2 separate regions of the Homo sapiens genome follow, and region 2 is linked to region 1. Evidence: fine-mapped expression QTL. A gene starts in region 1. The other region holds a variant in brackets. All regions are shown on one strand. Distances are from middle to middle.

The links.
Region 2: its variant is fine-mapped to the expression of AHCTF1 in whole blood (TOPMed, PIP above 0.99).

What each region holds. Positions count from the first base shown.
Region 1 is chr1:246,929,078-246,934,453 of GRCh38, forward strand. It overlaps AHCTF1 (AT-hook containing transcription factor 1), which reads right to left and starts at 2,871. Exons shown (of 36, transcript NM_001323342.2): 1 at 2,501-2,871. RefSeq lists enhancers at 1,994-2,083, 3,204-3,253 and a silencer at 2,424-2,523.
Region 2 is chr1:246,960,097-246,965,472 of GRCh38, forward strand. All of the region lies in intron 6 of ZNF670-ZNF695 (ZNF670-ZNF695 readthrough (NMD candidate)), which reads right to left. It also overlaps a transcript of ZNF695 not described here. Among named protein-coding and RNA genes, the nearest start is that of AHCTF1, 31 kb to the left of the region's middle. RefSeq lists enhancers at 2,227-2,386, 2,437-2,486. The variant T/C (reference allele first, on the strand shown) is at 2,048.

The DNA.
Region 1 (5,376 bases):
TGAGATCCCAGTAAAAAAGTGGGATAAGGGGAAATAAAAGAGTACAGTGGGCTGGGTGCGGTGGTTCACGCCTGTAATCCCAGCACTTTGGTTGGCCGAGGTGGGCAGATCGTCTGAGCTCAGGAGTTCGAGATCACCCTGGGCAACATGGTGAAACCCCGTCTCTACTAAAATACAAAAAATTAGCCGAGTGTGGCGGCGCGTTCCTGTAGTCCCAGCTACTCGGGAGGCTGAGGCACAAGAATCGCTTGAGCCCTGGAGGCGAAGGTTGCAGTGAGCCAAGATCACGCCATTGCACTCTAGCTTGGGCTACAAAGTGAGACTCCGTCTCAAAAAAATAAAAATAAAAATAAAAATACAGTGAAAACATTGGATTTAGAAGGAGGACCTGAAATTTGAGTATTTAAAAAAGGAAAGATGGCACTCCAGGATGAAGGACATGAGCAAAGAAACATCAGAGTGGAAACATCTCTTCCACAGAATGAGTCCAGGATTGATGACGATTCTGGAATAGCAAAAGCATAAAATTTGTTAACATATGAGGATAGACAGTAGCATATACTTATTGTAGAGACCTTTGAGCTAACCGAGGGAAGTTACACTTCATTCTGGGAAGAAAGAAAAGTCCCTGAAAATATTAAAGGTAGGCGTGAAAGACACAACGTTTTGCTTCCTCTTAAAATATATCTGTACCAGCCGGGCGCGGTGGCTCACGCCTGTAATCCCAGCACTCTGGGAGGCCAAGGCGGGCGGATCACGAGGTCAGAAGTTCAAGACCAGCCTGGCCAATATGGTGAAACCCCGTCTCTACTAAAAATACAAAAATTAGCCGGGTGTGGTGGCGTGCGCCTGTAATCCCAGCTACTCAGGAGGCTGAGGCAGGAGAATCGCTTGAACCTGGGAGACGGAGGTTGCAGTGAGCCAAGATTGTGCCACTGCACTCCAGCCTGGGCAACAGAGCAAGACCCCGTCTCAAAAAAAAAAAAAGATGTATCTGTACCTATGAAAAAGGAGAAGCATAAAAAGAAAACAAAAGTCTCAAAACTGATGTATAACGATCTTTTTTATTTTATTTTAGCAACAGGTTCTCGCTCTGTCACACAGGCTGAGTGCAGCGGCGCGATCCTAGCTCACTGCAACCCTCGAACTCTCAGTTTGAGGCTGAAGCTCAAACGTTCCCCCCGCCTCAGCCTCCCAAGTAGGCGCGCGACTAGAGGCGCCACCAATTCCCGGTTGACATGATGTTTTAAAAATTTTTTCAAGATAATTATTGTTGTTTGCAAACTCGTGACAGCTTGGTAGTATGTTACTGAAGGATCAGGATCCAAAAATCACAGTACAGAGACAACGTAGACTTCCCATAGCGCTTGGCACACTTAAAACATCCCTTCAAGTATTAACCTTAACTGGGCTTGTCATCCCAGGTCAAATCCTCCGAAATAAGTAAACCACTCTAATTTCTTCTCTCCTAAGAGACTCTATCAGTGAAAGCTCACAAAAAAACAGTTTAAAAAAAAAAAAGGGGGGGTCTCGCCATGTTGCTCAGGCTGGTCTCAAACTCCTGGGTTCAAGCGATCCTCCCGCCTCAGCCTCTCAAAGTGCTGGGATTACAGACAGGAGCCACTGCGCCCAGCCAAAGACAGTTCTTAAAATCTACAGGTTCTTTAGGATATTCTGAGAATAAATATCGTTTAGGATTTCCCCAAAGGATTTACGTTTTGTTCTATGAAGAACCCAGTTCTTCCAAAAATTTCTACAACTGACGATTTGGAAATAAAAATAACGCTCATCTCATAAAACTTTGCACACAGATAGTATGAACCTCGTAAGCTTTGAGAACAAAATTTCCCCATCTCTCAAAACAAAACACCCAAACCAAAACAGTCAACCAGTGGCAAAAGAAACCGTCCTGTTTCCCAGGTAGGAAAAAGGAAGGCAAAGCACCCCAAGATGTGCTTTTATTTTAAATCTCCTTGATCTGACCAATCGGGTGAGCTGGAACCTCACGGCTGAGCCCCGAGTCCAACTTCTTCCCCGCCAGGACTACTCACTGTGGCCAGGCCCAAGCGCATGTGGAACACACGCCAACACAGGACAGGCTCAGCACGCCGGCCGCTTCCCTCGGGGAAAGGCCCGCCAACGAGTCCATCGCGTGGGAGAACAGTGGGAAAGGGTCGCGGCCCCGGCCGTCCGTAAAGGGACCCGACTGCCGGCGCAGGACGCGAACCACCAGCGCCGCTCCGCCGCCATGTGCCGCCGCTCCTCCGGTCCGAGATTATGTAACGAAGCCCGGCGCCCGCGAGCCTGCCGTACCCGCCACCGCCACCGCTCGCCCCCTCGAGCCCCATCCGTTGGCCCCGCGCACGCCCGGCCTAGGCCCGGCGCTCGCGGGGCAGAAGCCCCGCCGCCGCCGCCGCCGCCGCCGCCGCCGCCGCGGGTCCAGGCCGCGCGACCCGCCCTCCGCCGCGCGGGCCCAACCCCCTCCCTCCCTTCCCCCTACCTGAACGGGGCGGGTGAGCGCGCCGCCGCGGGCCGAGTCCACCGGGTCGCCAGGCCAGGCGCGAGCTCCTCCCGTGCGGGTCCGTCACAGCATCTCCCGGGAGACGTGGCCGCCACGGGCCGGGCTCACACCCCTCCGCCCGGCTGAAGCCGCTCCTCTGCGCTCCGGCCGCCGCCTGCGACCTCCCCGGCCACCTCAGAGCCACACGCCCCCGAGAGTGCCTTCGCGGGCTGTAGGCCTGCAGACCGCTCAGCGGCTAAAACGCAGTCGCTGCTCCCGCCGCGCTTCTGGGTCCTTCCCCTTGCAACGCTGCCTGCTCGCCTCGGACAGCGCCGGCCCCGCTCTGCGCATTACCCTGCGCCGACAAAACCGAGTTCCACACGCCCCGGAAGGGAGGGAGCAGAGGAAAGGGCGGAGAGGGAGGGGAGAACCGGCGGGAGATCGCGGCTGCAGGGACCAGAGTTCTCGCGATGGTTCCGCGCTCTAGCGCCGGCTCCGCGGGAATTTTCAAACTCTCGGTGAAAGAAGGAGGTGGGAGGGAAAGGGAGGAAAGAGAAGCAGGGCCTGGAAGGGCGGATCATTTACAAAAAAATCGGGTCTCTCCGCCTCCGAGGAGCTGGTGGGGAGAAAGACTACGAGTCCCACAGTGCCTTGCGCGTGAAGCCGCCCTGGCGGCCCCGGCGGCGCGCCCCGTGCGCAGTTGGGAGTGGTAGTCTTCGCTGGGGGTCGCGCCGGGCTCTGCCAGCCGCCTGCTGCGATTGCAGGCGGACTCTCTTGTCACGTAATCGTGTGGCCCTGCCAGCTGGGGGCCGAGTGATAATCTTTCTCCCATAATTGGCAGCTTGCATTCTGTATTTTCTGTTCTGTGCTCCCACTTTTCTTTTTTTCTTTTTCTTTTTTTTGGAGACGGAGTCTTGCTCTGTTGCCCAGGCTGGAGTGCTGTGGCACGATCTTGGCTCACTACAACCTGTGCTCCCGCTTTTCATGCCAAAGGTGGGCTCCCAGACTTCTGGGGAAACGCTTTTTCCACGGTGCTGTTTTTTCTAGCATCCTCCTGTGCTTTCATGGCCAAAAATGCTCGCGCAGCCTAGCCTAATCTTTTTAGTCAAAATTTTACCCCAAATCACTGTTATCTTTTTGGTCACCGCGGGTTTTCATTGTGGAATTTCTTATTTCTTGTTAGTATCTTCCTTTGAAGCAAATCCCAGCGCCAAACATGTTTCAAACAGATAGGGAACGTATCCTTAATACTAAGTAGTAAGTAAAAGGATTATAACATGAGGTAGAGTAGGGATTTTAAGAAGATGCTCTTTTATCAGGAAAGTTTCTACTTTTCTGTTACCTTTCATATGTGCTTTTTAAATTTTTTTATTTTTGAGACAGTGTCTCGCTCTGTCGCCCAGGCTGGAGTGCAGTGGTGTAATCAAGGCTCACAGCAGCCTCGAACTCGTGGGCTCAAATGATCCTCCTACCTCAGCCCTCCAAGTAGCTGGGACTATGGGCATGGACCACCATGCGCCACTACGTCCCATTAATTTTTTTATTTTATTTATTTATTTATTTATTTATTTATTTGAGACGGAGTCTCGCTCTGTCACCAGGCTGGAGTGCAGTGGCACAATCTCGGCTCACTGCAACCTCCGCCTCCCAGGTTCAAGAGGTTCTCCTGTCTCAGCCTCCAGAGTAGCTAGGACTACAGGTGTGCGCCACCATGCCCAGCTGATTTTTGTATTTTTAGTAGAGACAGGGTTTCACCATGTTGGCCAGGATGGTCTTGAACTCTTGACCTCGTGATCCACCTGCCTCAGCCTCCCAAAGTGCTGGGATTATAGGCGTGAGCCACCGCGCCCGGCCTTATTTTTTATTTTTTGTAGAGACTGTCTCACTGTGTTACCCAAGCTGGTCTCTACTCCTGGGCTCAAGAGATCCTCCTGCCTCAGCCTCTCAACGTGCTGGGATTACAGACATGAGCCACCATGCCCAGCCTATTTTTATTTTTGTAGAGACTGTGTCTTGCTGTGTTGCTCAGACTGGAGTGCATGGCTATTCGCAGGCACTATGGCCTCATCAGTGCCACTGCTGCCTCCAACTTCTAGGCTCAAGCTATCCTCCCACCTCAGCTTCCCGAGCAGCTGGGACTACAGGCATGGATATCATGCCTGGCCCATATTCTTTCAGAGATAATGCTGCCTTTTGGAAATGTAATTTTCTTTTTTCTGTAATTTTTGTTTCTTTAGTAACAGCAACCTCCATACATATCATGTTTGTTTGCACAAGGTATTGGACCAAGTTGTGATAGAAACAGTTAAAAAGAGTACTGCTTTTGCAGTAGGAGGTTTGGGGTTCGTTGTCTTAATTATTTTAAAGAGATCTCTTCAAACAGAAACCACCCTCTGTTGGATGTGCTGATTTATGTCACATGCTCCATATTCTACACTTTCTTTGGCACTGTTTTATGCCCAGTTCATGAGTACTGTACCTCTCGATAGTCAGAAGACATGAATTATCAACTCAGGTGTGCTGCTAGTGAGCTGTGTGACATTAGGAAAATCAAGTGACCTCTCTGGGCTTCAGTTATCAGATGTGTAGAGCAAGGGATTGACTGATTCATTAGACAGATATTTATTAACTTTGCTCTAAGAGCCCTTCCAGTTGTGAAATTCAAAAATCTATTTTAATTGCACATATTATCCAGATTGACTGTCTACATAGTCTTTCAGATTTTAATCCTTTCCATCATTATCAACAGAATGATTTCTGTATCATTGTCTATATTTTTATTATTTACTTATTTTGAGACAGGGTCTTGCTCTGTTACCCAGGCTGGAGTGCAGTGGCACAATCTCGGGTCACTGTAGCCTTGACCTCCTGGGCTC
Region 2 (5,376 bases), 31 kb after region 1:
GCTTCATGAATAATTTAACTGCTTGCTTTTCCTCTCAGATTTCACACATTTTGCCACGTCATTATTTAAGGAAACTTTCTCATATTGTAATACTTCCTCTTTTCTATTCAAAGAAATTGTAAACATATCAGCAAAAAGGGAACCACAGTTTTATCTGGAACACTAATATATTTAGAGTGAACAACACTGCCACCCTAAGATTTCCCAGTAACCTAGATGCATTTTGCTGTACTCAAGCAGGCTGATATGATTGCAGTTTGGGGAAAAATTTATATTATATAGAGTGTGGTTTCTTTTGGAGTGGTTTGCTAGTTTCTCCAATGCTGTTTGTCATATATGTAAAAGTAAAAACAGTTGGTATTGTGTAGCAGTATAGAATACTACCTATGTTCTCTCTCTATATATATGCCCCAGAGAACCATTTGTTTCCATTCAGAGTGATAAGGTTATACAAGACCTACTTGGCCATGCAAGACAAGTTCTTTTCTTCATTTCTGTCTACAAATTCAGATCATTTCTCCATAGTTCAAGATAGCTATCTATCCTTCAAAGAATGGTACAGGCCAGGCATGGTGGCTCACACCTGTAATCCCAGCACTTTGGGAGGCTGAGGCCGGTGGATCCCTTGAGCCCAGGAGTTCGCGAGCAGCCTGGGCAACATGGCAAAACTCTAGAAAAATATAAAAATTAGCTGGGCATGGTGGTGCTCACCTGCAGTCCCAGCTACTTGGGAGTCTGAGGTGGGAGGATCACCTGAGCCTGGACTGGTTGAGATCACGCCACTGCACTCCAGCCTGGGTGGAGACCCTGTCTCAAACAAACAAACAAAAAACAAAAAACAACACAAAGAATGGTAGAGAGAGCTGTAAAAGTAAAGAATCTATGAAGGTCTTTTGAGCTCAAAAATGTTTCTATTTCAATTATCATTTAAAACATGTTCACTATGAAGGTGGGCTTCCTGACTTGATTCACTCATTGAAATTCATAGTAGGGTCAGTTGATGACCAAGAAACTTAGCTATTTCAAAATCATGGGGTATAAGTCTTAACATCAAATAATGCATATGTAACTCAAACTTCTCATCTTTAGCATCATCAGTTCAAAAATTATATACGTTACTCCACTAATTAGGCATAACACTTCATTAGAAGTTATATATGCATTCAAAGCCACCTCCAGCTGCACCAGCCTATAATGAGCTGTTTATTTGTTCATGTGACAATCTTATATTGCTACCTATTATTTCATGTGCACGTAGATACTCGATAAAGTCTTTTAAAATGAATGAATGCAAATCTTCTGCCTCCCACAGTGCCTGTTCTTAAATCCTAAGCCCCATTATTGCTACTCCCTGCCACCTCCATTCCATAAACTGCAGGGCCATTGTTCTATAAGCTGCTTGAGTTTAAGAGTGTTGCTTTCACAGCTCTCTTCATACGTACAGGAAGGCTCTGCTTCTCCTTCCCAAGACACTCAGGGAATCTTTCCAGGATGCTTCCCATTCACTCTACTGAATTCACCTACTCCCTCTTGCTACCTCTGCTTATAGTATTTTGCTTCAGACCCAATTGTCACCCACTGGTCCCTGAGATAGGCAAAAGATGCTTTAGACTATTTTCTTGGGTGCTGCCCTCGGGCTCCACATCCTGCAGCCTGCCTCATTCCCATTCTGGAAGGGAGTTCAGATAGCTTGAACTTAGTAGTAAGGGTGATCTGACTCCTGTGATCATTGACTTCAGTGTTCACCAGGCTGCTTAGCAAAGGGCCCTCTTCATCACTCCCTTCATCATTCAGTTAAGGGAAAAGATCTCAAGAACGCAGAGGCATAGAGAGGCACCTCAATGGCACTGTGCTTTGCAGACATATGAGTTGTCATGGCAGACGGTGGTGGTGACGATCACTGCTGCCTGTATCTTTATAACCTTAGAGAAATCTGAACTTCTCTTTAAGGAAATCCATGTGTAATTTCCTTCTCTGGTTGCTTCATAGGGCAGTCAAGGCGGCAGGAAGCCACAAAGCCCTGGCTAACAAATTAAAGCAATGTTTA[T/C]ATGCTAGGCTTGGTCTTTCCTAATGAAGGAGAGGCTGCTGACTAGTGGGGCTCAGGTCAGACTTCCTGTCACCAGCTGGGCTTGCACACGTAGGGAACACTGACGAATGGCTTGGGCTTTGTGCCCCATCAGCACTGGGCCCTCATGGCCCAGTCACAGGAATATGGCTAGCAAGGCAGCACGACTGCTTTACACCAGAGTTCAGGGAAAGGCATCACATCCCTCAAGCCACCCAAGCAAGAAGTCTGGTGGTCGTCCTAGCCTCTTGCTCTGCCTCATACCTCACAGACGATTTGTTTACCACGTCATAAAGATTTTACTTCTTAAATACCTCTCAAATCCATCCCCTTTCCTCTCAATGGCTCTGGCCACTGACTTAATTCAGGTCCTCATCATTGATCATCAGAGTTACTAAAATGAGAAGCAAGTGGCTTCCGTGGGGCTGGCCTCTTCACCTCTAAGCTGATGTTTTCTGCAAGAGTGATCTTTCTAAATTACTAACATCAGATTTCATCACCTCTCTGACCCCCTTCTGCCAGCTTGAAACCTTTCTTTTTTTTTTTTTTGAGACGGAGTCTCGCTCTGTCACCCAGGCTGCAGTACAGTGGCACGATCTCAGCTCACTGCAAGCTCCACCTCCCAGGTTCACGCCATTCTCCTGCCTCAGCCTCCCGAGTAGTTGGGACTACAGGCACCCGCCACCACGCCCGGCTAATTTTTTTTTGTATTTTTAGTAGATAACCGGGATGGTCTTGATCTCCTGACCTTGTGATCCGCCCATCTGGGCCTCCCAAAGTGCTGGGATTACAGGTGTGAGCCACCATGCCCGGCCTTGAAACCTTTCAACGATTCCTCGCTGCCTTTAGGCTGAAGTCCAAACACCTTAGCAGGCAAACCGGCTCCTGTCTCTTGCCACCTTTCTCCATGCCCCTCATTCCAGCTATATTCATCTAATGTCCATTTCCGATCATGTCACACTCCTTCTGCCTTTAGTGCTTTTCCATGCTATTCCCTCATCCGGAAGTGGCCATCCTTCACTAACTAGCTCACCCCTGCCACTGCTTCTGCATTCATTTATTCATGACACGTTTACTAAAGGTGACTGTGTGCCAGCCACTAATCTAGGTGCTGGGCATCAGTGAATCAAACAGACAAAACTGGCCATGTGCAGCGGCTCATGCCTGTAATCCTAGTACTTTGGGAGGCTGAGGCAGGAGGATCACTTGAGGCTAGGAACTGGAGACCAGCCTAGGTAACAGAGTGAAACTCTGATTTTACAGAACATAATAAAAAGAAAAATAAAAAACAGGCAAACTTCCTGACTTGTAGAGCTTCCCTTCCAGTGGTGGTGATGGTGGTGGGAGGGGAGGAACAATGAAGCGAACAAACAAGTAAATTCTACGCTAGATGACAAGACAAGTGCTATGGAGAATAATCCGGCAGGGAAGAAGGCTGGCAGTGCCAGAGCAGGTGCGGGGGTTATTGCGATTTTAAATGGAGTTGTGTATAATAGGAAAAACCAACTGCTTTCTCTTCTACAGTCATACTTGTCAGAGAATACTTCCTCTCCGGTTGCTAAAATGTGTGTGGAGTTTTCCCCACACCGACCAATTCTCCAACACCAGCTGGGTGATCTACAATTTAACTCAATCCTGACACTATGTACCTGGAGTTAGAGTCAGATTGCACAGCTTAAGGACTTAGTCCCACAAGACTGCCCCTACTTTAGATGCCAGTCACAAGCCCCAGGCTGTGACCCGTGTTCCTGACTGACAGGCTGTACACTGGAGTTCCCATGGTGCCCTCCTTGGATTTGATAATTTGCTAGGATGGATCACAGAACTCAGAAAACCACTTTATTTATGTTCACCTGTTTATTAGGAAGGATATTACAAAGGATACAGATGGACAGCCAGATGGGAGAGATGCATTGGGCCAGGTATGGGGGAGGGGGCAGGTGGCTTCCACGCCCCCTCCAGGGTGCATCGCCCTTCCAGCACCTCCGCGTGTTCAGCAGCCCGGAAGCTCTCCAAACCCCACAGTTCAGGGATTTTCATGGAGGCTTCATCACATAGGCACCACCAATTACTAACTCAGGTTTCCGCCCCTCTCCCCTTCATGGAGGATGGGGAGCTGAGCTGAAAGTTCCAAGTTTCTAATCATGGCTTGGTCTTTCTGGTGACCAGCCCTATCCAGGAGCCCACCAAGAGGTGCCCCATGAGAAAAAAAGACGCTACTATTACCCAGGAAATTCCAAGTGATCAGGATCTCTGTGTCAGGAACCAAGATCAAAGACCAAATATCAGAACAAAAGATTCTCCTAACGCCCCTATTACTCAGGAAATTAAAGGGTTTTAGGAACTCTATGCCAAAGGACTGGAGACAAATATTGCTATGGTTTGAATGTTTGTCTCTTCAGAAACTCATGTTGAAACTTAATCCCTGGCTGGGCCCAGTGGCCCATGCCTATAATCCCAGCAATTTGGGAGGCCAAGGCAGGTGGATCACTTGAGGTCAGGAGTTCAAGACCAGCCTGGCCAGCATGGTGAGACCTCATCTCTACTAAAAATACAAAAATTATCCGGGCATGGTGGCATATGCCTGTAATCCCAGCTACTCAGGAAGCTGAGGCATGAGAATCACTTGCACCCAGGAGGTGGAGGTTGCAGTGAGCTGAGATCGCGGCACTGCACTCCAGCCTGTGCAACAGAGTGAGTGAGACTCTGTCTCAAAAAAAAATTTAATAAAAAATAAATTAGAAAATAAAAACTTAATCCCCAATGTGGCAGTACTGCAAGATGGGGGAACTTTATGGGGTGATTGGGTCGTGGGGCTCTGCCCTCATGAATGGATTAGTCTGCTCATGGATTAATCCATGGGTTAACAGATTAATGGTTTATTATGGGAATCAGACTGATGACTCTACAAGAAGAGCAAGACAGGCCGGGCACGGTGGTTCACGCCTGTAATCCCAGCACTTTGGGAGGCCCAGGTGGGCAGATCACGAGGTCAGAAGGTGGAGACCATCCTGGCTAACCCCGTCTCTACTAAAACTATAAAACATTAGCTGGGCATGGTGGCGGGCGCCTGTAGTCCCAGCTACTCGGGAGTCTGAGGCAGGAGAATGGCGTGAACCCGGGAGGCGGAGCTTGCAGTGAGCCGAGATAGCGCCACTGCACTCCAGCCTGGGTGACAGAGAGAGACTCTGTCTCAAAAAAAAAAAAAAAAAGAAGAGCAAGACAGACCTGAGCTAGCACGCTCGGCCCATTTGCCATGTGATTTCCTGCGCTGCTCAAGATTCTGCAGAGTTGGCAGGGCATGGTGGCTC